Homo sapiens: one gene and its partners. The protein of the gene in region 3 purifies or fractionates together with the protein of the main gene of each other region. This does not show direct contact. Each region holds a gene or a part of one and is shown on either strand. Other genes may lie near its edges.

What was found.
Region 1: the proteins of PTPRM (region 3) and MON2 purify together in Homo sapiens (affinity purification with mass spectrometry, with the first as the bait; one large-scale study listed by BioGRID). This does not show direct contact.
Region 2: the proteins of PTPRM (region 3) and LMAN1 purify together in Homo sapiens (affinity purification with mass spectrometry, with the first as the bait; one large-scale study listed by BioGRID). This does not show direct contact.
Region 4: the proteins of PTPRM (region 3) and ATP2A1 purify together in Homo sapiens (affinity purification with mass spectrometry, with the first as the bait; one large-scale study listed by BioGRID). This does not show direct contact.

What each region holds. Positions count from the first base shown.
Region 1 is NC_000012.12:62,465,626-62,469,625, reverse strand, and holds the start of MON2 (protein MON2 homolog), read right to left. Parts: upstream 2,801-4,000; 5' UTR 2,419-2,800; coding exon 2,308-2,418; intron 1-2,307. UniProt on the Homo sapiens protein: Plays a role in regulating membrane trafficking of cargo proteins. Together with ATP9A and DOP1B, regulates SNX3 retromer-mediated endosomal sorting of WLS away from lysosomal degradation.
Region 2 is NC_000018.10:59,328,266-59,331,765, forward strand, and holds part of LMAN1 (protein ERGIC-53 precursor), read right to left. Parts: intron 3,275-3,500; coding exon 3,153-3,274; intron 2,865-3,152; coding exon 2,828-2,864; 3' UTR 1-2,827. UniProt on the Homo sapiens protein: Mannose-specific lectin. May recognize sugar residues of glycoproteins, glycolipids, or glycosylphosphatidyl inositol anchors and may be involved in the sorting or recycling of proteins, lipids, or both.
Region 3 is NC_000018.10:7,951,142-7,956,208, reverse strand, and holds part of PTPRM (receptor-type tyrosine-protein phosphatase mu isoform 1 precursor), read right to left. Parts: intron 1,089-5,067; coding exon 795-1,088; intron 1-794. UniProt on the Homo sapiens protein: Receptor protein-tyrosine phosphatase that mediates homotypic cell-cell interactions and plays a role in adipogenic differentiation via modulation of p120 catenin/CTNND1 phosphorylation.
Region 4 is NC_000016.10:28,891,988-28,895,487, forward strand, and holds part of ATP2A1 (sarcoplasmic/endoplasmic reticulum calcium ATPase 1), read left to right. Parts: intron 1-2,167; coding exon 2,168-2,256; intron 2,257-2,517; coding exon 2,518-2,620; intron 2,621-2,834; coding exon 2,835-2,966; intron 2,967-3,500. UniProt on the Homo sapiens protein: Key regulator of striated muscle performance by acting as the major Ca(2+) ATPase responsible for the reuptake of cytosolic Ca(2+) into the sarcoplasmic reticulum.

The DNA.
Region 1 (4,000 bases), on a different chromosome or scaffold from region 3:
CTTCATCATAATTAGGCTAATGACTCTCTTTGTTTTAAACCTATGACACAGTCAAGATCATTTTTCAATTCCTAAAGTAGTGCCCAGTGTCATTGGGTAAGAAATCAAAAAGCTTTCATTCAACAAATTCTTATAAACACGTACCATATACAAAATTATGCATCAGAGATAATCACAAGAATTACTTTTGCTATTATCTCAAAGACTAGGTGCAATTACAAAATATCTCTCTAGCCAGTGTTCAAGTAAAAACCAATAAGCTTTTTTGTTAGTTTGTTTTGAGACAGGGTCTCCTTCTGTCTCCCAGGCTGGAGTACAGTGGCACAATCACCACTCACTGCAGCCTTGACCGCCTGGGCTCAAGGGATCCTCCAGCAGCTTCTGGCTGGGCATGGTGGTTCACACCTGTAATCCCAGCACTTTGGGAGCCAGAGGTGGGCAGATCGCTTGAACCCAGTTCAGGAGACCAGCCTGCCAAAACCCCGTCTCTACAAAAAAAAAAAAAAAAAAGGCGAAAAATTAGCCTGTCGTGGTGGTATGCACTTGTAGTCGCTGCAACTCAGGGGGCTGAGGTGGGAGAATCACCTGAGCCAGGGAGTTCGAGGTTGCAGATCGCACCACTGCACTCCAGCCTGGGCCACAGAGACCCCATTTCCAAAATCAAAAAACAAAACAAAAAAATGTAATAAATGGCAATTAAATTCCCAAGCTAGACCACAACAGCCTATAGAGGAACCACAGTTTTTGTATGAATTATTAGAACTGCGAAGTCAGTTCTACAAATTATTGTTGAAATTACAAAATAGTGTTTGATATTTTCTAAATGAGAGCATTTCTCTTATAATTAAAACAACTTAATTCTTTAAAATTCTCTAAAACAGCCTAATTCTTTAGATTTACTTGTTATAACTTTCAACAGAGGATATAAAAAAAATGAAAATCAATATCAAAACAGACTATTGACTATGTGAAATAAAACATATCGTAACAGCCATCTTTCCAAAAGTGGCACATCTGGTTTCCATCACTGGGTAATACTTTATTAAAGAAATACAAGATGGAGTTTGTTGAAAACTGATAAAACCAATGCACTTACAGAAAAGTCAATATTCCTTACAAGCCTAAAATCCAAAATTTATTGGTCAAGTTCTAATTACATAATCTTCATAATAATAAAGATATATTTAAATAAGTATGTAAATATGAAATCCCTCGGTGAATTTTTAGGGCAAAGAGTAAATGAAATTGCAGGTAAAACAAACTACATTAAATAGGAATAAAAATAAAAACAGCCGGGCGCTGTGGCTCACGCCTGTAATCCCAGCACTTTGGGAGGCCGAGGCAGGGGGATCATCTGAAGTCGGGAGTTCGAGACCCGCCTGACCAACATGGAGAAACCCTGTTTCTACTAAAAATACAAAATTAGCCGGGCCTGTTTTTGGTGGGTTTTTTTGTTTGTTTTTTTTTTTTAGAGAATTAAAATGGCATTTTAAGAGAAAAAGCAAATAGTAACCAAATGTTAAATATTTCACCTCAAGAACTATTTGGAGAATTAAATTTCCATGTATTATTTACTGGGATCTCTTTAATAATACCCTTCTGCTCTGACATCTTTCCCATACATAATATAAAACCATCCTTTAACCCTATTTTACAGCTGGAAAAAAAAACCCGAAGCTCAAAGAGGTTAAGATTTATTGCTGGAACTAAATTCAGGTGTATTCGCTCTGACTGCAAGCCCAACTTCCCACTACAGTACTGCTCATAACAAGGTTTAACATGATTATGTGGATCTTCAATATTCTTCATAAATTAGGTGGCTCTGGATAGTTTATTAACACGTCAAAGGATTGATACAGAGTTAAGCTGAATGATATATACCAGAAGGAAAATTGTTTCCAATTCAGTGATATGCCATAAACGTGAGGAGTACAGGTTTCAACAAGATGGGTGGATACTCGTTTCGGGGAGCAACAAACAAGTTTTTCAATTTTGGTTTGGCCAGTTTCAAGTAAGAAAAAGGCCAGAATAGGCTAGTGCACAGTACACCTAGCTGGATTAACTGAATAGGCTCACTTCATGAACTTCACTCCTAAACTGGGAGGACAGGAGAGGGGAGAAAATCAAAGTGCCTCAGCCCTCTCCAGTGGAAACTATAAAAAGCCCTTGTGGAACAACCCACCGACTCACAAATCTGGAAAGGTGAGGCCTGAATGAAAATTAGGACTGGAAACTGGGGTGAAGCACTGAGTCTAACAGGACCAGGCATGCTCACAGTGCCTTCTCCTGACGTCACCTGAAGCTTACCTCTTTGACAGGTGGGAATTTCTTCTTGCACTCCAGTGACAAGGCGCGCAAGTCGCTCTGCATATTCTCCAGCAGCTTCTTCACCGCCTCGGGGCTGCTGGTGCCGGACATGATCCTCCAAGGTCCCAGCCAATTTCCGAGAGGTACAAACAAGCTCTGGCACGGTCAGCTCCTTAGGGCCACAGGCAGCTCCCTCCCGGTGTCTCTGGTCCTTCAGCAGCCCGCTTCTTGGGCCCTGGGCTGCGAACCCGGAGCCTGCTCGAGCGTCCCCCAGCAGCTTCCCCGCAACACCTCTGGCTTTTCTCGGAGGCGCCCCCCGCAGTCGCACCGTCCCGCTAGGCTCCGCCGACTCTGGCCGAGAAACCCACAAGGCGGGCAGGTCCCTCCGCTGCCGCGGGGCCCAGCCACACCGGGTGTCACCAGCCAACCTGGCAAGAAGCTTCAGCGCCAGCTCCCCAGGCCCCTAAGACTCGCCGACGCCATTAGCCGAGTCGCCCACAATTCCGAGCGCTGCCGGGACACGTCAGCCGCACTTCCGGGTACCGTGGCCTCCGCCACCGCCGCGGCCAACCCCGGCGGCAGGCCGTCGGCGGGGCGGGGCTGGGGCTTGGCCATGCTCGGGGCAGGCGGGATTCCGGGTGGGCAGCGATTCCCACAGCCCCACCCCCGGAATCAAGTAGGCTAGACAGGGTTTAAGGCGTCAAGATTCGCTTCGTTTTCATTAACAAGTGCCTGAACAGAGCCCCCGAGTACTCCTTGGCATATCTCTTTGCGTATGTTTGTGTTAAATTGTATTTCGGTGTAAATAATTTGTTTCCCTGTAGATTAATCTTAACGTGTCTCCTCCCGCTTCATTTCGAATCTCTGGACTAGTGGCCCCAAATCAGTGGCTACCTCCTGTTAATATACATTTTTTTTCTTTAAACGCAACTGGTGCACTTACTGTGGGGTAGCCTCTTATTTTCCTAATCTCTAAAATGAGACTACCCTCTGCTCCACGCATTCCGCTGGCCTCCCATCTCACTCAAAGTAAAAGCCAAAATTCCTCCAATCACCTACCAGGCGCTACGAGATCTGTCCCGGCCCCTTTACTGGCAGATGCTCCCAGCTAAAAGGAGAGTTTCGCGAGTTGGGCTGCCGGTTCTTCCTCTTTTTAAATCTTATTTTGTTTCCTGTGTATCTCCAGCACCTAGAACAGTGTCTGGCATATAGCAGGTAATCAGTACATACTTGTTGAATGAATACCCTTCTATTATAAAATCAGAGTTTCGAGGCTCAAATAAGGCACAGATACATAAAAGCCTTCATCAGGTCTGAAGTGCCAAATAAATATGAGGCAAAAGCCAAACAGAAAAATCTTCATCTGTATTTCCCCAAGATCCAGGTTGGTCTACTTTTTCCCCAAGACATTTTGCAGCTGCTGGTCAGAAAGCAGAAAATGAGGGAGGAAAAACCAGAAACAGTAGAGATGAAGAAACCAACACCTTCAGACAGCTGAGCTTATGACATGATGGAAGACAGTGAGCCATGAGATTGTCAGTGGATAGCGCTGTTTGGCTGTAACAGAGCTACTTTGTAAGCTAAATAATTTTATTTTATTTTTCCTTCTGATAAGAAGCAAAGCAAGGATGGATAAAGGGGACAGATGAGGTAATAGTAGAGAGCTCCTAGGGCAGTAATTTTGATCATTTGT
Region 2 (3,500 bases), about 51 Mb from region 3:
TACCATAATCACAATCAGGAAGGCAAAGAAGCTTTAGCAGGCAGGCTTGAAGATGGGAGTTTTCATGGCTTGACCATGAATGATCTCAAGATGATTTCATAAGATTAAAAGCCATCACGAAAATACTGAAAGCAACAGGTAATAATCTGGATTCAGTCTGTAGTTGCTCATGAACCACGCGTTTTAATAAAAGGAACATTAAGTAAATTGTAGGTATAAAAGAATCAGTGCATATCTGTTAATGTCATTGACAATAAAAATATATTATCTTCTCAGCTCAGCTCTAAATTAACAAAACACCTATTTTTTTTTTCCCACTCCTCATTTTAGTGGTTCTCAAACATTGGTGTGCTCAGAATCTCCTGAGGTGCCTATTGAACAATGACATCCCAAAGCCCCACCCCTAAGATTTGATTCAGGTTGTCTGAAACCAGGCGCCATGACCCAGATGGTCCATGGATCATACTTTGAGAAACACTGATATCCCCTTAATACATAACAAAACATTGTTTACTGTTTATGACTTCATGGTAAAGTTTTAAGCTGAATAAAACATTCAAACAATTATTAGAACACAAATAGGTACATTAAATAAGGATATAAGCCATTACGCAATTGCATTTTCCTTTTAAAAGTGGCATCATAGACACAATGACTTACATAAAAATTTTAAAATCAATTTTGTTTTAATCCAAGGCACCTGTAAAACACTTGCTGGTGTGAGAGAAGTGAACAAATTCAATTATACAAAATAGTACAGAAATGAAAGAATCCTGGCAGTGATTGATTTTTCCACAGAGCAAACCTTTTTGTTCAGAAATGAGCTCCTTAAAGTCAATGATTTTGAGAAAAACCACACTTCAAATATGATACACATCATGTGAACTACTTTGCTGAGTGATTTTCAAGCAAAGTATATCACTAAGTATAAAAGATAAAAGGCTCATGCTCATGCTGTTTCATAATAGCCATCTCCATTTGTAGTAAGAATAATCAGAATGATTCCCCTTGAATTTCAGCCTGAAAAATGTATACTGCATAGATCTGGTATTCCTTTAATGCACAGGCACATATGACCATGGACTTTATAATACTGGATTTGGCAGCCTTTTATCTCAAGAGGATTTCTCAAGTTTCATAGTTTACAACTTAAATATTCCTCTGAAGGTATTTAATTTTTTTTCATGGAGCAAGAGTAAATTCTGTGATGATGAAGCCTCTGAAACATGAATTTCAAAATGTTAACACTACAAAAGAAAAATGCTAGAGAAGCATTTTCTGTGTTGAAATGACTGAAGTAAAGTGAGTTATCACTGGCATATTCTCTTTCAGTGTTCTAGGATAAATATCAACATAAAAAGCAACGCCAGACTGTTTGCACACACAGCACTCGTTTGGTATTGCTATAATACAGAGTTCTTCAGAAAGTCTTTATATATAGATTTTAGGTCGTTAGCCCAATCTGTAAATGACATTTGAGAGCAAACCTAGGGAGGCTTGGAATAATTCAACAGTACTATTTTATAAGATAGTATTGTTTGGAATTCTATGGCAAATGAAAGACAACCATTTTAGCTAAAAGAAGTAAAAGAGTATTTTGAAGGCAGCAAAAATCAGTATAAATCAGCTGTGAACAGAATTAAATTTGCATCTTAAAATGTCATTTACAGACTGTTTCTGTAATACCTAGAAGTATGCACAAAGACTATAAAAACTCCTTCCAGTCTGACATTTCAAGGTTAAGTTTACTAACAAGTGCTTCACAATGTCCTTAGTTCTGGCACTAAAAGGAAACAATTAGAAGTATTCACTGTTTTTCAAATTTTGCCTTCAAGAATCTTAAAACTGCTTCTACTACAGCCTCCTTGATTTAAAAGAGTATGCAAATGGTCACTAACCCCAGCCAGCATGAAGTAACTAATGTAAACCAGAATGTAGTGGCAGGTTTTGTGAATTTAAATCCTCAGATCATGCAATTTGAGCTGAATTTACATGCTGTAGTAAAGGGAGAAATAAATTCCTTAAGTTACAAATATAAATATAAAAATTATTTTCATAATATTGACCTGACCCCATTGGAATGAAGACATTCAAGAATATGGGCAATCATGAATGAATACATTACCAGGCAAAATACCTATAAAAGCCATTCTCAGAGGAATGTTTCCACCCACAAGGTTTTTTAGGCAAAAAGCAGCTATTAATTTTCCTCTAAAATTTCCTTTAAAAGTGAAATATATCATTGATAAATAGAGGAAAAAAAAATTTCACTTAACATTTTGAAGTCTATTACCAGATCCTTAAAGCTCTCAGACAAAATATTCTTTGATTTCAAAGGAAGTTGCATTAAGATGAAAGGACTGCAGGCCCAGGCCTTTGATTAGGAAGTCTGACCTCTAAAAAAGACTTTGGTTACAAAATAAACCTGATGGGACTTCTTAATTAGACCTCATATTCTGGGAGGCATGAGGGCAAGTGTGTTTACGTTATACAGGGAAACCTGCAATATTGGAGACTTAGGGGGTAACATTCATATCCAGGGGTTGCCCCCACTTTATTTACCCTCTTACTGGTCAATATTCTGCTCAGAGGCTGCATCATACTGACCAGAAATTCACTGAAATTTAGACAGATTTACATACTGTGAACAAATTAAAATGTGGTTGTCTTTGCTTTAAGGTTTATTCTTAACTGCAAATCAATGTTTAAACAGTTATTTTATTAAGAAAATTAATAATTTAGACTATGAAGCAATTTAAATACTTAAATTCCCTCAAAACGACATCATTTTGTACACAAATAGATGAAGTACACAGGAAAATGGTAGTCAAAAGAATTTTTTGGCAGCTGCTTCTTGCTGAGACCTAATGAAAAAAAGAAACAAACACTTAAAGAAGTTCTATACGCTTAACTTTGGAAAGAAACAGGACTATTTAAAATTAAAATATCAATGCCTTTTGAAGTATACAACGCATTAAGATAAACATATATTCTACACGTGCACTTTATGTGAACTGAAATGAACAGAAATCACAATAAACTTAATTTTATAGGTGGTGAAAATTGTATTATGAACATAGATAACTTAGTTGAATATTTCTAATTAAACAGATGCAGAAAAATATTGGGTCACATTTTATCAAGAGACTTACCTATACATGATATAACCAATGAATAATACAGTTTGCACCACAACAAATATAATGAAGTGGACCGTAGACAAACATGATGGAAATGGTGGTAGTTCTGGGCATTTCGGCTTTTCATTTGATGGCTGTAAGGCAAATGACTTTCTATTACAGTTAGTCAAAATAGCAGTTTGGAAAAAGAAATAAATGTGAAATCTTTATAAAACTGTTTGCTATATAAACAAGTATTTTCATTTTTTCATCCCCCAGAAAACCTTCTATCCCCTTAACTTTTACTGACAACTGTTTTTGAAGGAGTAGTTGACACTGGAAGGCCTCCACCTTTTTACTACCCAGTCACTAACTCACTGC
Region 3 (5,067 bases):
TCTCCTCATCTCAGCACACAATTCAACACAGAAATTCCTCATTTACAAGACAAAAGAGCACTTAAATATCCCAATATACTGTTTCTCTCTGCTTCCTACCACAGAGTAGCCATACGGAAACAACACTACAATCTCTAATTGGGGAGCTTCATTCAGGTTTTGATTTTTGGAAGATTTTACACTTCTCTCTCCATTAACCCTACTTTTACTTAAGTTGCGGAATGGGTTTAGCACAATTAGAAATTTATAATCTAAGAAACTAAAGACTGCACCCAGCACACAAATCACTCTTGCTTATGATACAAACAGGCCCAAGTCATTCGCCAGCAGACCCTCCATTAAACACTCATCAATGAAAACACATCTTTAAGGCTATCTCTAAGATGGAATCTGTTATTCCAGAGCCCCTCCAGGCTGCTGGCACATTAACTATGAACATAAAACAAAGGGGCCCAAGTAAGAGAGTCTGACCTATTAGAGGACATCATTAGAGTAGACAGTTTCTGTAAACTTCACAGACAATTCCTATATGAACAATGTGGTACTCAGAGTAAGAAGTAAATTAACAATAGGAAAAAGGGTGGGGGCAGGCTGAGAAATACCAAGCCTGGAGGTTACTGGTCCCCAAGTTCACAAGCTGTTAGCTGACTATTCACAGGCTAAGGGCATTTTCTGTTCATATGCAGGTTTTGATAGAGCTAGGGGAAGCGTGCTAGGCATCTGATCAACCCCAGTGCTGCCAGTCAACACCAGGAAAGACAATGACAATTAATTGCAGGGTTCCTTATACTCACCAGCACACTTTGTTCTTGTCCTGAGAGCTGGACCAGGAGAGCCAGTGCCACCCTCCCCTGGCCTGGTCAGGAGCACACTAATCTCATATTCTGTATCTGGGTCAAGGTGTCCAATTTTATAGCTCGTGGAATCGACTGGCTGCCGGTCATTCCAGCTCCCACTGGCCGTGCAGTACTCCACCTCTCGGGCCACAATGGGCCCATCCCCATTGATGGAGTTGGCGTTGAGCTGTATCCACAGGTAGGTGGCTCCTACAGAGGCGAGCTGAGGTGGGGCAATAGGAACGGGTGGTTCTGAAAGACAAACCAGAAAGCTGTCTTTCAGATGCTTTGTCTTCAGTCTTAAAAGAGCTAAACATGCATCAATTATTAAAATGTAGAAGATAATAAAATTTCAGGAATAAATTGATGAGAAAAATTTTGTTTGGGTTAACAAGAAAAAGTATGTTGAAAAAGATTTTCATAGCATTCAAAGTTGTGAAATAAACCATCTTTAAACACATAAGCTTATTCAAGTAGGCATAACCCTAATTTGTTTTAGGACACCAACCACCGTGCATAGCATATGCAAATTAGCATATCTGATACTTTTTGTAATGGTGAATACAGAAAATATTCTCAAGACAAAAATGCATTAAAGTGATGCCTGTTTTAGGATACTAATTACAATATCTTGAATGAGTAAGCCCACTCATTACAGTGAGTCAGTTACACAGATATCAAAGGATTTTTTTTTTCCACTAAAGTTAACTGGTAAAAGTTCTCTCAAGTAGTAGTATTTAAGCTCTAGGAAGCATTCATTGTTAATCTCCTTATTGAGAATGTCTTCAAAATCATCAAAGGTATTAGTTCTTATATCATTAAATTGTTTCCTTATATTTATATTCCAAAGGTATCACCACTTTAAAAACATGCCTGAAATTACAGTTTATCTCATCAAAAATACATTTCCAGGATGACTCATTTTCCAAAATAACTATCACAATGGATTCATTTTGCTACAGGAGAATCGAGCATTCTGGATAATGAAGTCCACCACTGCTGCCATTCAGGGAACTTCCAGTAGTAAGTCTTACTAAAGCAGTGAATAGAAAGGAAAGCTCTGAAGCAAAAAACATACCATGCACAGCTTGATAAAACTAAGAAATCACTAGCAAACACACTTTACAACCCAAGAAAGTCCCTCTCTTTGTTTAAAATCTGAGACCGACTCTTTCCTATATCATTGTCAATCTTATCATAAATAGTACTCCCAGTATATTAGTTAGATGCCCGTTGAAAGGCTCTCTAGGCACCAAATGAAGGTATTCCACATGCCGATGCCACTGTGGGTGATACCACACATGATAAATGAGATCATTGTACAAAACAACGTATTTCTACCGGCATAAATCTCCCTCTCAGAAAAACATAAATCTAGTGATTTTTTTCAAGACTGTATCTATGGGTGGTTTGTGCCTTTTTGGCATGTTCTGTTTTTAACTCCTCATTTTGCTCATACAAATGCACGGAAAAATAAAATCCGCTATATCCTATTACTGGAATGCTGGCTTGCTTGCTGAAATTTCTGCTACCCTCTTGCATCCTCTTGCATGGCAGACATAGCTAATCGATCACAGCCATGTTCCCTGCTGCAGAGGACCTCAGAGAAGCTAGCACCACATGAGGTTTGCACCTGAGCTGATACCGGGTAAACTCCTAGACCAGCTAAAAACCAGCAACATTGGTTCCCTTTGTTGAGTTGGTTGTCTTAGTTCTTTTTTATATTCAAGGTGGGATAAGTCATACTGACTTTTTACAATTGCTGGGGAAATCTCACTCGACTAAGTCAAAATAAGACACAAAACTGTGAATGAATTTTCCTTCAGAGACTACAAACATAATGTAAATTTACTAAAATATTGTTCCTGTTGTTTATAAACTGAAACTTTGTGCTGGTTTTTCATTTCTTTAAACAGCTCTGCCTTAACTCACAATGATTTAACATCAATTCATATCATTAGGCGATTCCTTGAACCGAGACATGAAATGGGCCTTTTATGGTACATCCTAAGGCATTTATGTAGCCAGACTGAAAGAGCAGTTAATTACTTTCGAGTTGCAAATGCTAGCAAGGGTTGTTGAACTGCCATTCAAAATGAAACTCAGGGGCAAAGTCACAAAGGGTCATGAGTACACTCACTCATTTAAGACATTGTAACTAGTATCCTAAAATAGATGGGACTTTAATGCATTTGTTTCCTGAGAATGTTTTCTGTTTTAATTCTCCATTAAGAAAAGTACCAGATATGCTAAATCAAATGAAGTATTCAACTAGAACCTGGAAATAATTGGGACAGACATTCAAAAGGACTTTTGGTTTACAGAAGAATCAGCACAAGAATACGGCAACATTTAAATTTTCGTTTTTAGACAGAATCTTGCTCTGTCACCGAGGCTGCAGTGCAGTGGCACCATCGTGGCTCACTGCAGCCTCCGCCTCCCAGGTTCAAGTGATTCTCCAGCCCCAGCCTCCTGAGTAGCTGGGATTACAGGTGTGTGCCACCACAGCTGGTTAGTTTTTGTATTTCTACTAGAAATGGAGTTTCACCATGTTGGCCGGGCTGGTCTCGAACTCCTGACCTCAAGTGATCTGCCAGCCTCGGCCTCCCAAAGTGCTGGGATTATAGGCATGAGCCACCACGCCCGGCCAACATTTACATTTTCTTTTCTTTTTTTTTTTTTTTGAGATGGAGTCTTGCTCTGTCGCCCAGTGCAGTGTCGCCATCTTGGCTCACTGCAAGCTCTGTCTCCCAGGTTCACACCATTCTCCTGCCTCAGCCTTCCGAGTAGCTGGGACTACAGGCGCCCGCCACCATGCCCGGCTAATTTTGTATTTTTAGTAGAGACAGGGTTTCACCGTGTTAGCCAGGATGGTCTCAATCTCCTGACCTTGTGATCCACCCGCCTCAGCCTCCCAAAGTGCTGGGATTACAGGCATGAGCCACTGTGCCCGGCCACATTTGCATTTTCAACAAATTTTCCCAAAGGGAAAGGATGAAAGAGGTAAAGAAGGAAGGAAGGAGAAGGCAAGAATCTTAATCTGTACAAAGTGATAAAATGCAATTTAAAATATTTCTTAATTCAAGTGAAAGGACACCATAAAACTAATTCTAAATCAAGCCAGTAATGGCAGTATTTATACACACACAGACATATATCTAATGGATACGCACATGTAAATGCCTAATACATCAATAAATATGTCAGTATCATATTTAACTGTATGAAATATGTTTACATATGAAATATAGAAACGTAACTAAATAGGGTATTGATATATATATGCATATATACATGCATTGTGGAGATTATATGAAATATTTTTATGTCCTTGGTTATCAAAAGTGGCTAGACATGAATAAAGATGAGAGTGATGGTTAGTCAATTAAAGGACTTGGTCTTTATTTGGGAGGCTGGCCACAAATCAGTGTGTGACCTTAAAAGGTTAAAAACTCTATGGACTTTAGTTTCTCCCATTTGTAAAATTTAGCACTCCAAATATGATATGGTATATAAAAAAGTGTTAAATTATAGACAAGTGGCCTAAAAATGTTAGTGTATATTTTAAAGTAATTGCCTCAAGGTAATAACCTTATAAAACTAGTAGTATCTAGCATGTTATCTCATTAAAAAATATATCTATATACAAAATATGGCCATAAAATTATAATTGGAGAAAAAGTTAAATTTCATATTTGAGTCCTAACTGCATGCAAATTGTCATGAGCTGTGGCAGTGTGCGGAAATGGAAATAAGTCCCTGGTAATTTTTATCACAGTGAGCCAAGATACTACTACACTGCCATAAGACAGGAAAATGTGGTGCACAAATATGAATACGAATCTATTCATTCTTTCTATTTATGTTTGTTCAGGTAGACTAGAAATTTATAATTTACTTATAACTTCCAACAAATTAACTTTTCCACAAGGGAATTTTTAGAGATACTACTAGATTTGCATCCCACTAATCAATAACATGGGTAGTGGCAGGTCACAGTGAAGCAGTATAGCAACTGAAAGAAAAGGAAAAATAATCAAAAACAAATGAACCAAGATGAAAATTAAATAATGGTAGTAATAATGATGATGATAATGATGAACTCTAAAATGACAAAACAGTTTGTAGGCAAACTAGTGTCCTTTCTGTACATCATGATGTCTCACTTGCCAGAGCACTTTCAACAGGGTAGGGTGTGTACAGCAGGGAAGAATCTTAGTTTTGTTAGAGA
Region 4 (3,500 bases), on a different chromosome or scaffold from region 3:
ATTTTTAAAAACAACTTTGTAATTTGGCAACACACATGCTTCTTTATTAAGGCATTAATTAGGGAGTTCTCGCAGTGGGTCTAAGCACTATCATAATGTTGAAGCAGTGGTGAGCATAAATTATGCTATTTTGAGAGATCTGCAACAGTGGTAATGTGATAGGAGGAAAGTATCTGTGATTAAATTGGTGACAGTCACAGGTTTTGCTAATACTAATGTGGTCTGTTGACAACATGCATAACTGGAAGGAAATGTCAAACGTCAGCTTGAGAACAAGAAAAGCTGTCGTTTTTTTCTTGGCTATCTCAGTTCTTGGGCTCCTTGCAGGGTCTTCCACTGACCTCAGGCCAAGAACCCCTGCCCTTCACAGAGTTTTGTGGAAGACTACACCCATGAACTAGAAATTGCTGTTCTGAGAAGCAAGGGCTGTGTGGTCAGATCAGGGTGAGAAAGGCTGTAACCTTGGCTCCTGGGCGAGACCCACAACATCTGCTGCTATTTGAAAGCCTTAGAGGAGGCTGACTGTGTAAAGAAGACGGATTCTGCTTTGCCCCAGAGGTTCCCAAGTTTTTTTTCTGACCACAGAACTTTTTTGTCTTGGAACCCATCTTAACCATCTCTCTTCTCGGGAATGAAAAGCCCAGTCTCTGTTGCGTTTGCCCAGGATTCAGGGTAGGCCACTCCTCCTGGGCACTGCGTTCTCCACATCCCTCTAACGCACAGGCCACAAAGCCAGACCACAGGCTCGTGTGACTTGGCTCCTGTCATGTTTCATAAAAATGAATTAATTCTCACGCCTGTAATCCCAGCACTTTGGGAGGCCAAGGTGAGTGGATCACCTGAGGTCAGGAGTTCGGGACCAGCCTGGCCAACATGGCGAAATTCCGTCTCTACTAAAAATACAAAATTAGCTGGGCGTGGTGGCGTATGCCTGTACTCCCAGCTACTCTGGAGGCTGAGGCAGGAGAATCACTTGAACCCAGGAGGCGGAGGTTGCAGTTAGCCGAGATTGCACCAGCCTGGGCAACAAGAGTGAAACTGCATCTCCAAAAAAAAAAAAAAGAATTGCCCATATATTTGAAAGTCAAGAGGCTGGGCATGGTAGTTGCCTGTACTCCCAGCATCATGGTGGGTGCCTGTACTCCCAGCACTTTGGGAGGCCAAGGCAGGAAGATCACTTGAGCCCAGGAGTTCAAAACCAGCCTGGGCAACATAGTGAGACCCAATTTCTACCAAAAAAAAAAAAAAAGAGAGAGAGAGAGAGCAAGAGAGACAGGCATGGTGGCATGTGCCTGTGGCCCCAACTACTTGGGTAGGCTGAGGTGGGAGGATCACTTGAGCCCGGGAGGTTGAGGCTGCAATGAGCTATGATCACACCACTGTACTCCAGCCTGGGCAACAGAGCAAGAACCTATCTTAAAAAACAAAAAGAAAAAGAAAAAGTCAAGAGATTTCATAGGAAGATAACCTGAATTTCTAGCTCTTCCTGCAAAACTGGAAGATCTGGCCACATGCAGCTGGAGCTGTAGATGGTCCAGGTGCCAATAGTTGGGCTGTTTGCCACAGTCCCCACCATACCTTATTGTGTTCCATCTTATTTTATTAACTGGTCTACAGAAGCTCCAGCACAGCACAGCCTGCGGTCACTCGTTTGTGGGTTTTTTTTTGTTTTTTTTTTTTTTTTTGAGTTTGGCTCTTGTCGCCCAGGCTGGAGTGTAATGGCACGATCCTGGCTCACTGAAACCTCTGCCTCCCAGGTTCAAGCGATTCTCCTGCCTCAGCCTCCAGAGTAGCTGGGATTACAGGCGCGCACCACCACACCTGGCTAATTTTTGTATTTTTAGTAGAGACGGTTTCATCATGTTGGCCAGGATGGTCTTGCACTCCTGACAGGTGATCCGCCCACCTCAGCCTCCTAAAGTGCTGGGATTACAGGTGTGAGCCACCTCGCCCAGCCTCAGTAACTATTGTTTTAAGGCTGTTGATAGAGAATGATTGCAACAGCTTGGTGGGAAGTGGGTAGGGTATACGGGGGGGATGAGGAGGGGTGAGTAGGAGGGAAATGGTGGGAAGGTAGGTGTTGGCAGTGCAGGCCTCCCTTGATGCAGGTGCCCACCTTGGGATGGGAAGAGGTGGACATCTGTGTGCCTGCCCTTCTCCCCTGCAGATGTTTATCATTGACAAGGTGGATGGGGACATCTGCCTCCTGAATGAGTTCTCCATCACCGGCTCCACTTACGCTCCAGAGGGAGAGGTGTAAGTCACCCAGGCATCTTCTCCCCAGCTCCTCACGCCCCTTCCCACACCCCCTTTCTCCCTGGGGCCCTCCATGTGGTTTTGCTCTCCTTTCACTCTCCTCTTCCTCCCCGACCTTGTTCTCTCTCCTGATATCCGAGTTGGCTCTCCCCACTGTCCTTCCTTACCCTCTGCTGCCTGCTCTTCCTGTGCCCTCTCTGCATCTCATTCCCTGTTCTTCTCCACTGTCTCTGTCCCTTCCTCCCCTGACCCTGCTGCCAGCTTGAAGAATGATAAGCCAGTCCGGCCAGGGCAGTATGACGGGCTGGTGGAGCTGGCCACCATCTGTGCCCTCTGCAATGACTCCTCCTTGGACTTCAACGAGGTAACCTCTCCTTCCCCTTCCAGTTGGCTCAGAGTCTGGGCCTCCTCCGAAGGCCAGGAGGAAAGGGTTGGAGGAAGGGGACCCAGTACACCCAGCCCTCTGCCAGGGTGCAAGGGAGGCAGTGGTTTGCTTCCTTCTTACGCTAGGTGGAAGGAGGGTATGACAGGTAGGAGCCTGGGGCACCGACTTCCTCTTCCTCCTCTGCCCATCTCAGGCCAAAGGTGTCTATGAGAAGGTCGGCGAGGCCACCGAGACAGCACTCACCACCCTGGTGGAGAAGATGAATGTGTTCAACACGGATGTGAGAAGCCTCTCGAAGGTGGAGAGAGCCAACGCCTGCAACTCGGTGAGCCTGCGGAGCCCCTGCCACAGGGCCGTCTCCACTCTATGCTGCATAGACTAGAGGAAGGCAGAGGCCCTGGTTGGGCAGAGCCTAGTGCCTGTGCTGGGACCCCACCCAGGCAGCAGACAGCCCCTGCAGCTTCTCCACAGGCTGATGTGGGTGGGACCCATTGTCCCTGGGGCTGCCTGGCGGCCATGCCCTTGATGAATCTATGATCACTTCTGCCCGCTGTGTCCTGATTTGAAGTGGACAAAGCTGGACACGGAAACCACAAGGGACCCATCCAGGAGCAGCCCCAACTTCATCTGTTATTCCTTTGTTTCTAGAAGCACACTTGTTTTCAGCAGATGATGAGTCCTGACTTAGGATTTGGGAAATGTGGCTACTGCACCTATAGGGAAAGCCTTTCCTTGCCCAGATGAACCCGGCCACTTCTAGGACTGTCACTCCCAGTTATTGCTATTGATACTTGCTGAACGTCTCCATTAAGCACTTCTCTCTGGGGAATTATATTCCCCACATTTCTCTCTTTCTCTC